Regions from separate parts of the Homo sapiens genome. Here region 2 is reported to be linked to region 1. Evidence: microRNA targets listed by miRTarBase, many of them from high-throughput screens and not tested one by one. Region 1 holds a microRNA gene; the other region holds the end of a gene's coding sequence.

What was found. Region 1 holds the annotated microRNA hsa-miR-199a-5p (CCCAGUGUUCAGACUACCUGUUC, at 933-955, shown strand). A microRNA usually pairs through its seed, bases 2 to 8, with sites in the 3' UTR of a target mRNA and lowers its output. Matches are read on the target gene's strand: a 7mer-m8 pairs with bases 2 to 8, a 7mer-A1 pairs with bases 2 to 7 and ends in A, and an 8mer does both.
Region 2: the mRNA of COL19A1 is a reported target of hsa-miR-199a-5p. Seed matches in the 3' UTR shown: 7mer-A1 at 2,496-2,502 and 7mer-m8 at 1,228-1,234.

The regions. Positions count from the first base shown.
Region 1 is chr1:172,142,419-172,145,546 of GRCh38, reverse strand. It overlaps MIR199A2 (microRNA 199a-2), which reads left to right and starts at 903; the gene lies at 903-1,012. The region is part of intron 14 of DNM3 (dynamin 3); the gene reads right to left. It overlaps DNM3OS (DNM3 opposite strand/antisense RNA), which reads left to right and starts at 712. Exons shown (of 4, transcript NR_103486.1): 1 at 712-893; 2 at 1,110-1,182.
Region 2 is chr6:70,206,691-70,209,818 of GRCh38, reverse strand. It overlaps COL19A1 (collagen type XIX alpha 1 chain), which reads right to left. Exons shown (of 51, transcript NM_001858.6): 50 at 2,841-2,918; 51 at 1-2,672. The coding sequence ends at 2,545. Among named protein-coding and RNA genes, the nearest start is that of COL9A1, 95 kb to the left of the region's middle.

The sequences.
Region 1 (3,128 bases):
GAACATTTCTCCAGACTTTTCATGGGGGCTTCACTTTCAGGAAGTTGCTATAATTACTGTTCAAGTCTAGAGCAGCCTGCAAGCTGCTGACAGATTCAACAGACAGGAGAAGGAGGGAGAGAGAGAAGGAGAGAAAGAGAGAGAGAGCGGGAGGGAAGGAGGGAGGGAGGGAGAGAGAGGGAGGGAGAGGGGAAGAGGGGGAGAGAGAGAGAGAGAGAGAGACAGACAGACAGACAGACAGACAGAAACTTATCTGCCCTTTTTGACGAGTGAAATACCAGAAAATAAAGTGCCACAGGAAAGCTCAAAAAGGTTTCCAAATGAGCTCTGCCTTCCAGTGTTCAACTTTCTGTTTACTATTTCATCTACCCTCTATCTTCAAATTACTTCTCTAGCCTGGGTCAGACAGTAAATTTGTACTTCTACACTAACTCACTTTCAGTTGGCCACAGCCGAACTGTACATCTTGACTCTTTTTTTTTTACAGCTTTTCCATACTGGGGCCCACTTCCTGCCCAGTTGAGGAAAAAAATCTGGCCTGAAGATGAAATGACTGCTTAACGTTACACTAAAACATCTGGTACCATTTTATGCACAGACCCATGTCTGAGAGCAGGCGATTCTAGCGGTCTCTCCAGCGGCACAGCGCATACCCAAACCTCCCCAGGGTGACATCATCCCATATATGGACTCTCCAGCCCAGCCCTCCCCCTTTTCCTGGTCCTAAATTCATTGCCAGTTCCCCAGTCTGCAGCAAATGTGCCACGTCAAGACTGGAAATCACAGCCCTTGAGTGTGTCTCAGTCAGCGCAGCAGAATTCAGGGGGGAAAGCTGAATGCAACCCCTGGTGCAGGAAGGGAGGCTTTTCCTGAGGACCGGGAGAGGATTTTAAGTACATAGAAGGAAGCTTCTGGAGATCCTGCTCCGTCGCCCCAGTGTTCAGACTACCTGTTCAGGACAATGCCGTTGTACAGTAGTCTGCACATTGGTTAGACTGGGCAAGGGAGAGCAACGCCATGGACCGCTGGGGACAAAATGGGCTGTTTCCAAGGAGAAGACATTTGTTTGCTCCTTTTTTGAATCTCATATCCAGTGTTTTTCTTCACAGGTTTTGCACACTAGGGACCAAGAAGCCCTCGGGGACACTGCTGAGAAAAGACTGCCGAAGGGAAGACCAGCGGGTAAGGCCTTCTTGACTGCTCACCTGGTCTGTGACCAAGGGAACCTAGGTGGGGAGCCCATGATTTGTGTTAACATGCAAGGGAAACAGAGGTACATGTGTGATGGGTAGAGATGTATTTAATTTTAAAAGAGCAAAAGTGTGTGGTATATAGCGATTTACTGTTTTTTTTTTTTTTATTTCTGAAGATTGATAATTCAAGTGTTTTCTTAAAGGTTTTCCCACTTCAAAATGAAATATGAAAAAACTCATTCCAGACACTTAAGAATAGTTTAATGAGGCTACTTTTGAATTGTTTAATAATAATTCAAAGATTTAAAAACTTATATGGATGAAGGCTGTATGTATAACTTTTAACATCCCAGGACTGAAGTCATTTTTCCCCAAAGTAAAGAATACTTGCTGGTTTTTAAATGCTATATGGATAGTGCTTTTCTGAAGATTTCCTTCTGTAATATAAACAACAGGAATAATAGTACCTAACAATAAAAGAAGAACCTGCCAAGTCTTGCCTACCAGACAATGCAGATGGGATTTGCCCAGAGAAGAGCACCGACCCACAACTTATTGAGTCAGCAACTGAGTAAATCAGGGAATAAAAACCTCTATCTTTAGATACCCCTGTAAATATCTGTTTTACATTTTTTTTAAATCAAAGAGTGGTTAATAATTGCTGCTCAGCTGAGCCCTCTTGCCTATAGCTTACAATGCTTCCACTTCTCTGAGCATTTAAAATAAGGCACTTTGTCTAGAAACCCACTGATAAAAAAGGAATTTGTAAACGAAGGCAGAAGTTTTCTTTGGTCAGTTTCCAGCTGTCCTGGAGGTGAAAGAGGGTGGGAGAGGGGGAGGAAGGTGGGAGGGAAGAAAACCCTCAAGCTGAATGAAATCCTAATAGAGAAAATAATAGAGCAAGTCTGGATTGCAATGTGATCTGTGCTGAACTTTAGAGGTCGGCCCCTTAAAGAAAGTTCTGGAAAAATGTTATTGCCTCATCCCTAATTTTCTTAACCCCCATTAATTTCTATTCCGAAACAATTCTATATAATGAAAACATCTCTTCTACAGGGTTTGTGAAAAATAAACATAATCTCTTTTGTCCTCCTTTAAAGTTACAGTGGTTCCTGAACAAATTCTTTTCTAAGTTATACATTTTGCAACAATTCAAAAATTGACTCAAGTTCTCTTTAGCAAAATATTTTATTATAAAAGATTCCCTAAGTTTTCTTTTGTCAAAACAACTTACTTTAAAAATTACCCTTCTGATCACCCCAAAATGTGTATAAAGAAAACATTAAGTATTCTCATATATTCATGATTATTAGTTAAAATATAAACAGCAAGGAGAAATTTAGCTACTTTCACTTAGATGATATAGTAAAGTTATCCTTTCATTTTCTATTGTGACTTGGAGAGTTCCATATTAATTATTTTTAGTAGAACAAATGAGATGTTAAAAATCTATATAGTTTCTTTTACATAAGAAAACTAAAAAAAGTAACTTAGAGGAGCTCATTTTTTCAAGAAATATATTTTTTCTAATTGATACAATTACTGAAGAGGAAAAATAGCTAACAAGGTACTTTGGTAATGTTTTTCTCAAATTTTCTGGGTTTTTTTTTTTTTTTTACTCTAGAAATGATTACATTTCAAAATTTGCTTTCATTTAATGTATATTTAATTTCAATTTCTTTCTTCATGTTAAACGGTCTTTTTGTTTCAAAGAAATGAATCCCTATGGGTCCCTCACCTATTTTCTCCCTCAGGATGACTTTTAGTCTGGAGATAGAAGGGACATAAGGGTGCCTCTGGCATAAGTACAGGAGTAGAAATATAAGAATTACTTTGTAAAAGGATAACCAAGGAGTTCCTGCACATGCTTGATGTGGCTCTAGCGACTTATTTTCGAGGCAAAGTTTTAACAAATGAAAACGAATAGTACTTATT
Region 2 (3,128 bases), not on the chromosome of region 1:
AGAGCTGAGGCAGGAAAAAGTATCTGAAGGTAAATAATAGAGTAGGGTGAGAAAGGCTTGTACCATGTGGATACAGCCTTGTTTCTCTAGTTACGTCAAATTTAGTCATATTTCCCAGTTACAAAAAATGAGTTTGTGTCATTGTGACAAGTCCACTTTGTAATATGCATCACACAATATTATATTTCCCCATCCCATCAAATTACCTGAATAAATCCAAATCCTTGAAATAGGAATTAACCAGTCAAGCCTTAATGGTATTTAGAAAGATTTCTAAATATACAATTCATAAGAAAGAATGCATGACATATTTTGTAGAATAAAAATGAACAGAGTTAATAAAACAAGAAAATGAATTGTCTTTTTATGTCTATGACAAGAACAACTCAAAAACCAAAAAACAAAAAAAGTTGATTACCATCAGCAAAAAAGTCCATGAAAACATTAAAATGATAAAATAAATATTTTTAAATTAGCAAACAGGCAAAAAGATAAACAACCTATTAATATGAAAAAATAATCTTTGAAAACATATAAAATATTTAGCTTTATGACAAATTCAAGTAAATTAATATGAGTGGCAGATAAGTTGTAAGCGTTTAGAAAATTCAACAAATTAAAAGCTCAAGATATACACATAGCACCAAATTTTAGATCTATGTACACTTTTTCGGGATAAATTACCATTTTACTAAGAAAACACATACGTATGTCCCAATTGTGTAAGTTTAAAACACAGCACCATTGTAGGTATTGCACAAGAAAGAAAACGAAAAAAAAAAAATCAATGTCAAAATGCTTACAATAAATAAAATAACCTTGGAAAATAAATAAACTTGGAATTGAAATATACAGCATAATTCAATATGAAATACCTAAAATGTTATAGGTATGCACAGCCATTGTAGACAGTACCTGACCAGCAGTTCATTAATCTATAATGAAAACCGGTTCAAATCACGGATGCATTGGAACAAACCCTGCCTTAAATTAGGCACATTCCTCAGACACAACTCTGTTCACAGCTTTTTCCAATGTCAGTGGGCTAGCCTTTCTAAACTCATTTTTCAGTAAACAGACAAAAGCAATCATCCTGTTTTAGCCAAATTGAAATCTGCACTGCTCCTTGAAGAGCTGTGAGTCCTGATTGCTGTGGCTGGCAGGCTCTTGCAGCATGTTCTCACATCTGTGGGACCCACCATCTAGATTTCTGCAACATCCTCATGCCCAGTGTTCTAGAGAATCAGTGCCTGCCAATCAACAGTTCCTCAATGAATGTACAGCTAACCAACAGAAAGACTGTTTAGGCATTTGATGATCACTGTATTTTTGTTTCTTTTCAGAGGACATGGTTTTAGAGTGGGTGTGAACTCTTTGGTCTGAGCACTAGTTGCATATCCAGTCCTGTGGTTTTCCTTTGTTGAGCTGTACCTCTTGCTGCAGCTTCTGGAGAAATACAATTCTCCTTAAGAGCTTTTGGGCTTCACCTTCTTAACATGCATTTGCTGACACTACACATTCATCTTCTAGGACAAGTGAGTCCATTCTATACGTATCCCATCCTTTGTTTTGATGGTGGCTTCTTGTCTTAAAGTCTGAGGGTGATGAGGTCATAAGGATAATGGATACAAGGGCCCAAAGATCTTGCTAGGCCACTGAAGCTTTAAGAGTACCAAAGACAGCTTGGTGGCTTCACCACCAAGCACCTTGTAGGGAAAACAGCTTTCTGTTTACCAAATGAGAGACTGAGTGAGGGGACCACAGAATATTAGGCTTTTTTTGCAGAACTCATACAAAACTGGAATTTGATACTCCCTTTTCATGCAGTACTTATTCATGCCAGTGGTGATTGCTTTGAATTGAGCTCATTATACAGAATTAACAAAATCATTTCAGTAGTTGGCTATGCTGGGTGTTTGGGCTCCCTGATAAAACAGTTTCCTGCATTTTTTTTTTGAAAACATAAATTGTAAAATGAAGTTCTTATTGCCTATTTTTCTGCATAAGTAGGATAGATGTAGATGGTATAAAAATTCTTAAGTTATAAAAAGTAGTCAAAAAACATTCAACAGGAGCAATGCACTATATCAAAAAAGTTGACGAGATGTTTAGCAATGATAGTAAATTTAAACACCAAGGAAAAGATAAGTCTGAAACTTTAAAATTCAGAAATCAAAGGCCAACCACATGTTGATGAGTCTACAAAATGGATATCATCATCAGTCTACTAAGTCACAAGATGCAATTTCCTTTTGAAGAAGAACTAACGATAAGATTTACTTGCATATTTCATATAAAACTCTGAGTAAAAATCATAGCAATTGTAAAGCAAAACATATGGAATGAATTTGGGAAAAATCAAAAAATGCTGATTTGCAATTGCTATAGGAATAGGATTCAAACGGTTGCTTTTAATGCCTGGCTTACTCCCAAAAAAAAAAAAAAAAAAAAAAAGCAACCCACAGATGATGAGGGTTTGACGGTATTAAGAGAGCTCCAGTGGCAAGGAAATGTTACCAGGAACCAAGTCTTCTTCAGGTGTGTTCAATTCCCACCTGTGCGCTGATGGGCATGAGACACAGGATAGAGGCAATCTTCTGGGTTACATCTTCCACTGGGTCCTGGGGGGCCCTGTGGGCCTGGGGCACCTGGTGAGCCTGGCAAACCCAGAGCTAACGACATAAAAAAAAAATTACAATGCAGATCACATATGGCCCTTCCTCTCTCCCACCCTCTAGCCAACATGGATCACTCGACTTGACATATAAGGACCCTAGGGGAGAAGCATGGTTCTAATTTGTAAAGGCTTGCTTGTGTTGTGAAGACAATATCCCACTTACCTGAAGTCCCAGGAAGACCTGGACTCCCTGGCAGCCCAATTCCAGGTTCACCTCTTTCTCCCTTCTGTCCTCTGTAGCCTAAGTGAGAAATATATAAAAAAGAGACACACAAAAAGGGTTCTATGGCAACACAGCACAGAGAAGAACCATTTTCTGAGTCTGTGATAATTATGTGATACATTTGCTTAAAATAAATAGTATATTAGCTAACTGTTTTGCATTAACCACATATTAAACTTACATATCAAACAGATTGGGTATAATAGGGCAATGAGGATCTTAAAAAAC